Linked DNA regions of Homo sapiens. The protein of the gene in region 2 purifies or fractionates together with the protein of the main gene of each other region. This does not show direct contact. Each region holds a gene or a part of one and is shown on either strand. Other genes may lie near its edges. The genes, in order: NUMBL and BTBD8.

Region 1 (7,300 bases), on a different chromosome or scaffold from region 2:
CAGCGCCCTACACACACCCTCGTTTCCCGAGGGGCACCATTATATTCTTCCTTTATTGGCTGTCCTTGTATAATACAAATCTTCAAGTTTAGATACAAAAAAAATCTGGAAATAAAAGATAGAAAAGTACCCGCCAGGCACCCCTTCCCCTTCTTCCCGGACCCCTCCCCAGCGGGCACCGACATGAGGTAACTGCGCATCTTCTCCTCCTCCTCCCTCCCCGCCTCCTGGGCCCCCAACTTGGCCCTAGCCCCCATGAGACCTTGGCCCAAGGAAGACATGGGCCCCAAAGTTGGAGGGTGATGGAGGTGAGTACAGCATTGGCAGTGAACGCAGCGTGTGGGCAGAGGGCAGCCCTTAGCTTGTGCTGTGCATGGGGGGAGGAGACGACCAGATTTGGGGTGGGCACTGGTGTGGGGCCCAGGAGAGCCCCTAAGCAAGTGTCCCCCCTCCATCCTGTCCAACACTGGAAGGTGGGGGTCAACAGAAACTGGGAAATGGAGTGTGAACCAAGGGCATTCAGTGGGATTGTGGCCAACCCCTGTGTCTGGGGTTGGGGAAGGGGGCATTGCCAGCCTAAGTCCGGCAGTGAAATGGTTCCCTTAGCCAGGCTGGGTCCGTCCCTGAATTCCATCCTGTTGCAACCTGGGCGTCACAATGTTGGTTCTGTAGTGGTTGTCGGGGTGGTTGAGGGAGGGGGGTGTTGAGAGGGTGTTGAGGGGCGCAGCCCCAGGGAGCAGGGTTAGGGGAGAGGTTGTGCCTCCACCCCCAGGCGTGGGGCACCTGGAGATGATGGAGTGGGTGGGGCGGCTCGGGCTACAGTTCAATCTCGAATGTCTTTTGCAGGTCGCCAGAAAAGGGGTTGGAGGGTTTCTCTACAGTGGCTTTGCCTTCTAATGCCGCCCACTGGGCCTCAAAGGGGTCCAACTCTGGAGCTGGGGCAGGCGCTGGCTCAGGGGGCCAGGGGGCCCCATTGGGGCGAGGGCGGGCCTGGCTCCCAGGGGCACTGGGTATGGCAGGGGGCGGGAAGGCCCCAGCTTTCCCAAGCAGAGTGGCAGGCTGAGGCTGGAGCTGGGCGGCTGAGCAGAAGGCGTTTGCCACCATCTGTGAGGGTGTGATGCCCACCACGGGCACCCGGGGCATCGGTGGGTAGCCCAAGCCCGGGTAGGCGGGCACAAAAGGGGGCTGCATGTGTGGGGGTGGCAGGAACACGGCCACTTGGGCAGGTGCAGCGTCAAAGGGCCCCACGGGGGCGGGGAAAGGCTGCAGGGCAGGAGGCATGGTGGGCACTGGGGCCACTGAGGCTGCTTGCTGCTGTTGCTGCTGCTGCTGCTGCTGCTGTTGCTGTTGCTGCTGCTGCTGCTGCTGGGCCTTGGCCACCTGTGACACCTCCTCCAGCCATCGCTCAGCCTCTGAAGGTGTCCGCTTGTGCCCAGGCTGGAAGGCAGCTGCAGGGGGCACGGAGGGCTCACCCCAGGCAGAAGTCCCTGGAGAGAGGAGAGGGACAGGTGAGGGAGGGGGCAACGGCTTCAGCAGAAGAACCCCAGGCTGGGAACTGGCATGGTGTGGGGATCAGAGCACGGACTCTGGAGCCAGACCGCCTGCCTCTGAATCCCAGCTCTGCACCTCCCGAGCTTGCTGACTTCAGGCGAGTGACTTCACCATTCTGGACCACGTAATGGTTCTGGAGTGCTAAGAACATACAATTCTGAGCTTCTAAGGCCCTATGATGAGAAAGTCTAAGTAGGACTGACATCCTCCTAGCCCCACTACCCTTCTGACTGGTCAGTGCCAAGCCTAGGATTCACTATTTTGTTTTGTTTGTTGTCTGTTCGTTTTGAGAGTCTCACTCTGTTGCCCAGGGATGCCCTATCTGGGCTCACTGCAACCTCTGCCTCCCAGGTTCAAGCAATTCTCGTGCCTCAGTCTCCTGAGTAGCTGGGATTACAGGCGCGCACCATTACGCCCGGCTGATTTTTTGTATTTTTAGTAGAGGCGAGGTTTCAACATGTTGCCCAGGCTGGACTCGAACTCCTACCTCAAGTAATCCCCCTGCCTCGGCTTCCCAAAGTACTAGGATTACAGGCATGAGCCACCACACCCAGCTGGTATTCACTATTTTGAATATCACCCTTGATTTTCTAATACCTTCAGAATGTATTGTTTTAGGAGTTAAGATTCTAAGATTGCATGGATCTTTCTCCACATGTATAATAGTATCCTAACATAGTAAGGTTTGACAGTTTAGGGTTGGGCTTTCTAAGATTCTCGAGTTCTACATTTACAGTGTTTGAGATTCTAAGGTGCACCTGTGGTTCTAGGATAAGCCCATGGCTCTAAGATGATACATGGTTCTCAAGGATTCCATGGTTCTGAAACGATCTCTGGGCTCTAAGGTGATCCCAAGATTCTAGCATGAGCACATGCCTCTGAGGTGACCCCGTGGCTCTACAATGATCCCGTATCTCTAAGATAATTCATGGTTCTAAAGTGATCACTTGATTCTCAGGTAATCCCACGGCTCTAAGATGATCCTTGGTTCTAGGATGATCCTCTGGTTCTAAGATGATCTGTGTTTCTAAGGTGATCCTATGGCTCTAAGATGATCCATAGTTCTAGGATGATCCCATGGTTCTAAGGGGATCCCGTGGCTCTAAAATGATCAAGGGCTCTGAGATGATCCATGGCTCTAAGGTGATCACATGATTCTCAGATAATTCCATGGCTCTAAGATGATCCATGGTTCTAGGATAATCCCCTGGCTCTAAGATGATCCCTGGGTCTAAGGTGATCACATGATTCTTAGGTAATCCCATGGCTCTAAGATGAACCACGGATCTAGGATGATCCCCTGGCTCTAAGATGATCCATGGCTCTAAGATGATCACACGATTCTCAGATAATCCCATGGTTCTAGGCTGATCCCCTGGCTCTAAGATGATCCCTGCTTTTAAGGTGATTGCATGATTCTCAGGTAATCCCGTGGCTCTAAGATGATCCATGGATCTAGGATGATCCCCTGGCTCTAAGATGATCCATGGTTCTAAAGTAATCGCATGATTCTCAGGTAATCCCATGGCTCTAAGATGATCCATGGTTGTAGGATGATCCCCTGGCTCTGAGGTGATCCATGGTTCTAAGCCTGTAGGATCCCAAGACCCCTGGAGTGTCTGGGTAGCCCTGGATAGAGGAGGGGATACAGGAGGGACATGCAGGGTGTCTGCCCAGCAGAAAGCCTGGCTTTACCTGTTGTGGCAGGTGGTGGCCCTGGTGCTGGCGCTCCAGCACTGGCAAAAGATGAACTGATCTGTGTGCACAGAGCGTTGATGCTGTCACTGTCGCCGGCACCAGGAGGCTCCATCTCAGGCACTGGGAAGCAGGGCAGGACAGAGGTCAGCAAACAGGCCCAGACCCTGCCGCAGCCCCGCCCTCTACCCCCCGCCCTCGGTGGCCCTCTCTTCTGACCTGGATCCTTTCCCACTGTAGTAACTAAGTGGCCATGACCGCCAAATAACTGTGCATATGTGTGTGTCACATCTGAGCGGCAGAACGACTGAGTTAGTGTGTGACATTTGACGGCTGACAGTAACAGGGACCCCAAACCAAGGACCTCAAGATTTGTGTGTGGCCACAAACCAGAAGAGTTGTCTAAAACACTTAGCAACATATATTAGTTTAAAAATATGCCCAACCACGTGCATGGCAAGGACATGGGCCCAGTCTGAATGGGCTGTGGCATGGCCGCTCACTGGCTGGGGATCATTTGTCCAGCTTTGGGCAGAGAAGTGGGGTCCTGTCCACCCCACCCAGGCTGATCTATGGCAAACATCATGAGAGCAGAGATACACCTGTGCCAGCAAGGCAGGAGACACTGAGCAGGCATGGCGGCCCCGTGAGGGCTTGTGATGAGCAAAGGTACCATCCAAATAAACAATTAAGGACTCCCATGTGTGGTGTGTGACACATGTCTGTGATGTTTTAGCCAATGGCTGTCTCCAAGGGACCATGTAGATGCTCCAGTGAACATCAGAACTGGCCGTAGGAGTCTGCAGGTGTGCTGCGGGGGCGCCCGGGTGGGACAGCCAATGTCGACAATGATTGTGCATGTTCGTCCAAACAGGAATGCAGCTTCTGAGAGTGTGACTGGGGTCCGGGTGTGTGGCGTCCTGATGCGTGACTCCCAGGTGTGAGTGCATCTGCCGTGTGATGTATGAGTGTGTTTGCAGGTGTGCATGGATCTGCACATGTGGCTTTGGAGTTTGCATAAATCTGGGTGTGTGGTCTGTGAAGGTGTGTAAATCTGAGTGTGTTTCTTTTTTAAAAATATTTATTTATTTATTTTTGACACAGGGTCTCGCTCTGTTGCCCAGGCTGGAGTGTAGTGGCACAATCTTAGTTCACTGCAACCTCCGCCTCCCAGGCTCAAGCAATCTTCCTGAGTAGCTGGGACTACAGGTGCATGCCACTGCACCTGGTTAACAATAAAGGTTAATTTTTAAAATTTTTTTGTGGAGATGAGATCTTGCTGTGGTGCCCAGGCTGGTCTCAAACTCCTGAGCTCAAGTGATCCTCCTGCCTCAGCCTCCCAAAGTGCTGGGATTACAGGTGTGAGCCACCACGTCTGGCCATGTGTGACTTCTGACTCTGTGATTTTGGAGTGTGTGTGACTTGAGAGTATACCTGACTGTGAGTTTGTGACTTCTGAGCATGTGTGACATGTGTGTGGGGGGGTGCAATGTCTATGTGAGTATGTGAAATTTCTGTGTGGCAAGTCACATCCAAATAAGCGTGCAGCTGGCCACAGGAGTGTGAGGCTTCCAAATAAAGCCTGGAGCTCCTGCCACCTCTCAGGAGCACGTGTGACAGCCTGGGGAGTGTGCCTGATGTCAGGCTGCGTTAAGGACAGCAAATGTGAGGGTGTGTGATGGCCCAGGAATGCTGCAGGCATGGAGGGAGCGTGCGTCACTCTCAACAAGGGTTGGCATCTGCTCACCGGTTACCTTTTGGAGCAGCCCAGCCTCCTGGATACAGCTCAACACCCTCCCACATCAATCCCCGAGGACATAACGGGTAGGCGATGCAGATTTGGCATCCAGGAGCAAGAGAGTGGGCCAGACCACATGGGTTCACTGGCTGCTGGTGGGGAAGACAGCCCTTCTGCCTGCCTCCCTCAGGCAAAAACTCAGTAGCGTGCCACCTCTATCTTCCTTCCCTATGGCAGAGATTGCTCTTAATTTTTTTTTTTTTGAGACAGGTTCTCACTCTGTTGCCCAGGCTGGAGTGAAGTGGCGCAATCTTAGCTCACTGCAGCTGGGCTGAAGCAATTCTCCTTCCTCAGCCTCCTGAGTAGCTGAGACTACAGGCATGCGCCACCACACCAGGCTAGTTTTTGTATTTTTTTGTAGAGACAGGGTTTAGCCAAGTGATCTGCCTCAAGGGATCCTTGAGCCCCTCTTGGGCTCAAGTGATCTGCCTGCCTTGGCCTCCCAAAGTGCTGAGACCACAGGCATGAGCCACTGCACTTGGCTAGACATCACTTTTAGATCATGATGTACACCACCTGTCTCCTTTCCCTGGCCCATGGCAGACATTAGTAATCAAACACAATGCTTTTTTCCCCCACGGAGCTCTTTGCTCACCTTACCCGTCACCTGTCCAGACCTCATGGCTCCCCTGGCCAAGTGCTAGAAGAAACAGATCCTTGTAACTCCATCTTCCCTCCAAGTAAAACAGGACCTTTATATCTCCTCTCTCTTACCACCAGCCATGGCAGACAATGCCAATCAATTATGATGTGCTGCTCCTTTTCGTGATGGGTACTGCCTCTGCTCAACTCTGTGCCTACAACAAATGTTCCTGATCCATCACTATGCCCCTGACCCCTGGGATCTCTGAGCTCACTGGTGCCCTGCATGTCATGTTTCTACTGACCAAATTCTGGGAGTCTCCCCTTTGGGTAAAAACATAACACTCTTGCTACTCTTTCTTCTCCCTTGCCCATGACACACACTGCATGGAGATCATGACTGCTAACCGATCATGATGTGTGCCATCTTTCTCGTTTCCCTTAACCACAGCAGACATTGCTAATTGATCATGACTTGTGATGCCTTTTTTGCCATCCCTTGATGCTCCCTGCCCTAGGCAGACATTTCTAATCCATCACAATCCTCCTTTCCTCAGAGCCTGAGGAATACCTGTATCCTTCACCTAGCCAGATCTCATAGGTGAATGCTTGGAGGGAGGGAGCATTAACCTGTAGTGCTTCAGTCTACTCCTGAGCAAAAACAGGCCAATGGTGTTGCTTCTCTTCTTTCCCTGGCCCATGGCAAACTTCCTTATCCATGCCCGACTTCTTTGTCCATAGCCGACTTTGCTAACTAATCATGATGTGTGTCATCTTTCTCCTTTTCCTTAACCACACCAGACATTGCTAACTGATCATAACTTGTGATGCCTTTCTACTATCCCTTACTCAGAGCAGACACGGCTTATCAATCCTGATTTGTGCTATCTCTTTCCTCTCCCTTGCCCACTGCTAATCGATCATGACATGTTCCCACTCTCTCTCCTTTGCCCATGGCAGACAGTGCAAATCAATCACAGTGTGAACCATCTCGCCTCCATCCCTTGCCCACATCAGATAGTGCCAATTGATTCCAACGCCGTTTCCCACTGGGCCCAGGGCTCACCTGTGCCCTTCACCTGGAAGTCAGTGCGGCGCTGCAGCGTGGATGGCAGCTCATTCAGCCGTAGGCTCAGCTGCCGTTTGAAAGGCGAGTTCTTCTGGCTGAGTGCTGGGAACCCACGGAAGGAGCCCTGGCGAACCAGCTGCTCCAGGGGTGCATGGCGCCGGGGGATGGCGGCCGCAGTGGTGCCTGCAGCCACAGGGGTGCCTGCCTCACCCTTCTCACCAGGGGATGTGGTGGCTGGTGTCGGGGACACGTGCCCAGGCTGGGCAGGGCCAGGAGCCACAGTGGGGGCAGCTGCTGCCTCTGCTGGAGACATGGGGGAGATGGATGGTTAGATATCTCACCATGGCATGCAAGGCCTCTCCCACCTGGTTCTCTTGATCATTCTCCAAGGCTGCCTTCCTTGCCCAGTGAGTCCTGCCCTTAAGACAAGCTAGTCAAAGCCCTGAGATATCCCTCACCCCCACCCAAGTCATGATCCCCTTCCCCAGGAGGCTCTTGGAAAACCGTCCCCCAGGCTCACCCTCTGTGTCTCTCCAGCTTCCTGCCCCTTTCTGTCTTGCCCTGCTGCTCTCACCATTCTTCCCTCTAAGACCCTCTATCTCCCT
Region 2 (4,179 bases):
AGCATTTTGTAGCAAAGGTTTTTATCTTTGACTTACTACCAAAATTACAGACTGAAAGACAATCTGATCCAGGAAATAAGGAACTGGTGTCTAATGACACACCAAGAAAGCAAACGTGTGTGTGCACATACATACACATACACACAATTTAAACTCCGTAACTCAATTGCCTTATATACTCATTTTCAAGTTTATATTTAGTGCTGGCTTATTGCAGGTGCAGTTCCAACATATCCCTAACATGGAATGGAAAATGGAGAATGAGTGACTACCTGTAAAGGAAGTCTATGCTTTTGAACAAGGGCAGATTCCCTTCTGTGGATATATCCCCAAAAGAGAGAGACAGGAAATTCCATTTCTCTTGTTTTAGTAATGATGTGGTTGAAATTTGAGATGTACTTGCTTCAGAATTTCCTGGGCCTGAATTGTTGGGAAAGCTAAGATTTTCCCCAGCACTCAGCTATCAGCCTCAATCACCTAAATGTGAGTTTGAATGTTAGTCACAGAAAACTCTACATGAATGGACACAAGCACGGTAAGTTTTTATTGTTAAATTACTATGTTACCCTATGCAGAGCAAAAAGTAAAGGGACTGATCTACTTCTGCATTCACATTTTAAATTCTTGAATAATGATTAAGTGAACAAATCATCAGCTAGGAAAGGAAAACTGAAGCTAGGGTTTCCTTATAAGTCTTCTAATTTCTCTAATAATTAGAGAAAACATGCTCAAAAACTTTAGAAAAACATTTTTCTATATGTGATATATTAATAAATAAACTATGTTTACCTCATTAAATTGGAAAGACTCAATATTAAAGAAAGTTTATATCCGGCTAATGCAATTATCATTTGGATATAATATAGGCATCAAAAAATAAAGGAGTGGCATAAATTTTTCCAAAATGTTAACACTTAATGCTGAGTTTCCAGTTCCAGAATTGTCCACTCGCCTTGAGGCGAACAATCTTCAGAGGAAAAACTAGCCATGGTGATGCTCGCTGAGGAATCAAGTGGAGATGTTAGTTCACTCCATCTGTTCAAAGTGTCAATATGTGTTATACCCTGAGGTTTTGAGCTATCTCGTGCTAAAAGTAGTGTCTGATTGATTAGATACTGTGCTAAACTTAAGTCTTCAGGAACGGAATTTGTAACATCTAAGTTTGAATCCTGTTCAGAGAGCAGTTGCTTTAGTAGTGTCCAATCTTGTTTTGCAAAATGTTGGTCATCTTCAAAATCCATATCTGTAACATGTGTTTCTGATTCCACTTTCTGCTCAAATGCTTCTATTACATCCATCTCATATATTGGAGACAGGGTTTTTGAAGGCCGATGGTCATACATGCGGGTTTGTGCCAGTGTGTCACAATCATCTATGTCTCCTGAAATAATTCATAATACTACACAATGTAAAAATTGCACGTTGGTACCCTCAGAGTTTTGTAGAATATTAACACAATATAACAGTGATAGTCAAAAAAAAAAAAAAACACAGAATGGGAAAAATAACTTCTATACAAAATTGACAAGATTTTTGAGGCATTTTTATGTGTTTAAAATTCAAGGGTAATGTTTAGAAGCAAAATCAACATAGGCAACTAACAATAATTCTCCATACTTTAATTTGAAAACTTGTGATACAGAAAACATAAATCATTTAAACATAAACATAGAATGTGCACATATATCTAATTCACTACAATAGAAAAAGAGAAAAAAAAAAGACATAGTGTTTTGATGATGACTTTTAGGGTAAGTCCGTTGCAAAAGGCAGGGATAAATACATTTCACCTAAAGGCTTATTTGTATATTGCACATGCAAAGGAAGATGCAAGCAAGGACAAACAAACGAAAAAGTACAACTTTAAAGACCTCCTTATTCTTCCGATTTTGCTGAACAGGAAACTACTGATCAGTATTTTTCTTAGTTATAATACACAATAGCTACTCAGTCAGCCACTATTGCATATTTTAAATGTGGGTCATTAGTCTGAATTACTATAATAAGGAAGACAAAAAACACAAAACAATTAGACAGAAAATCATCTAAACAATATGAAATAAGCCTGGGCTTTTTTCATATATTATCATTGCTTCTAAATATAATCTCTTAGGAAATTTATCTTTTTATTTGAAAACTTTAGAATAGACAGATCCTGAAAATTTTAATCTCTGTAAAATGTATATAAATTGTAATAATCAATCTAGTTGTTAAAATAGTTCAGTGCTTTTAGTTACATATTACTAGAGTTATTGCACAGGCCTCTTATATACTATCAAGTCTATAAATCATATCCAATGTATAATAAAATTTCTAATAGTCAAGAATTCTTGTGTTAAATTATACATAAATAACTAAATAGCAGCAAACTAAGTTTTTCTTTTTATTCTTTCATTTAAAATCTCTTAGTAGGTTAGCTCTATATAACAATCAAAATTTTTACTAGATATTACTTCTTCATTAGGATTTTAAGTGAACAATAAAGAATGAGTAATTTTCATATTAAGACATTTTTCATTTAAAATTTTAATCTGTTGCTTAAGTAATTATTCTATCTGACTAAAATATAACATTCAGGGCTTCATACAACTTTAAAATTTTATAAACTTATTTTCTTATGCATTTAGCATTTCTATTTCTGTACATTACCTGCAGATAAAGCAATATTAGCTTTTTCAGTAGTTGTAGAATGGCTCTCTTTCACTGGACCTTCCTGAGGCAGAACTTGACTCCGAAAGGAGTCTAGAGATTTTGTAGAGCTGTTCTTTGGTATGTCAGAATTGGGTTCTCTTTGATGAAGATCCAAGTGACATGGTCTTTCTTGAGATTTTACATCACTATCCAAGAATTTGCTGCGTTGCTGAATGTCATTTTCCACATTGCTTCCATTGTTTACTTTTTTATCTTCTCGAAGAAGCTGTCTGCTTCTACTGGATAGGACGTCTATTGTGTTCTTTTTTTCTGTGGCTGAAACACTCTGTTTATTTTTTCTTGAAGAGTCAATGCTACTAAGATCCAAGACAGTGCTTTCATTTTTACATACACTATTGCCTTTATTTTGTTTACATTCTAAAATATTATCTTCACTTTCTCGTGAGAATCTGGAATAGCAGGTCCTTCCATGATGTTCATGAGAAATGCCATCAAAAACATCAGAAGGTGAAAAAGAATCTACAGAAGCCTGAAAGGGAGTATGGACTTCTCCTTCATCTGATCCCAGCTCTTCACATTCATCGACTGAAAGTAAAACTGACCTTTTAAACTTTTTAGTTGCAGAAAATTCACGACATTCATTTTCAGTTGCATCTTCAAAAGCTAAATTAATTATTCCCTGAAACTGCTGAGGAGCTGGGTTAGATATAGAGAAATTTTCTGCAACGTTTTCAGCTTCAGATCTTTCATCTTCTGTTTCATCTGCTGAAGAAGATACCTGATCTATTTCCTGAGCAAACTGGACACTGCCTCGTGGAATATTTTCTCTTTCCCTAGAGTGAACTATTGCAGATCGAGACCAAATTTCTGGCCTTTTCCTAGGGATTTCATCATCACTCGTTGAATTAACTTGGAAAAGATCATTATTACTTTGCTTTTTCATTTTTACTTCAATTCTTAAATTACTATCATAAATTTTTAATTCTTCAGGAGTACTGGTATCACTGCTACTTCTTCCAAGAAAATCATGGCACAGCATAGTGCCACATTTAGAGATACCTCTGTCATTTGACCCATCATCATCCTGAGACCCTCCAGCATCATAGTCTTCAGATCTGGGCTTTATGTCATCGGAGGAGGTGGTAGCACTGCCAGTGTCAGATTCAGGACTCTCTCGCTGATGCAGAACACCAGTACTCAAATTCCAGTGACCCACAAATGGAGTTTCTGGAGTTTCATGGCTCTCTGGAGATTCTGATGTTTCCATATTTTTAGGAGAATTTTTTTCTGATAGCTGTCCCGAAAAACACTTGGAAGATACATCTGAGTCTGCTGTAGCATGTTTGTCTTCATCCATAGCAGATTCATCTGACAACTTACTAGGAATTGTCAGTCCTTCCACAGGAACTTTCGATTTTTTGTCTTCTTGAGCAGAATTTAAGGTACCATTTGTCCTTTCAGGATTACACAGTGAAACATCTTCCACACATTTAATACTTGATTGTTTGTTTGTATCTTTTCTCCCTA

The links.
Region 1: the proteins of BTBD8 (region 2) and NUMBL purify together in Homo sapiens (affinity purification with mass spectrometry; 2 studies listed by BioGRID and IntAct, with this or other methods). This does not show direct contact.

Annotation. Positions count from the first base shown.
Region 1 is NC_000019.10:40,666,652-40,673,951, forward strand, and holds part of NUMBL (numb-like protein), read right to left. Parts: intron 6,999-7,300; coding exon 6,693-6,998; intron 3,370-6,692; coding exon 3,247-3,369; intron 1,488-3,246; coding exon 817-1,487; 3' UTR 1-816. UniProt on the Homo sapiens protein: Plays a role in the process of neurogenesis. Required throughout embryonic neurogenesis to maintain neural progenitor cells, also called radial glial cells (RGCs), by allowing their daughter cells to choose progenitor over neuronal cell fate.
Region 2 is NC_000001.11:92,181,066-92,185,244, reverse strand, and holds the end of BTBD8 (BTB/POZ domain-containing protein 8), read right to left. Parts: coding exon 2,650-4,179; intron 1,382-2,649; coding exon 915-1,381; 3' UTR 522-914; downstream 1-521. UniProt on the Homo sapiens protein: Involved in clathrin-mediated endocytosis at the synapse. Plays a role in neuronal development and in synaptic vesicle recycling in mature neurons, a process required for normal synaptic transmission.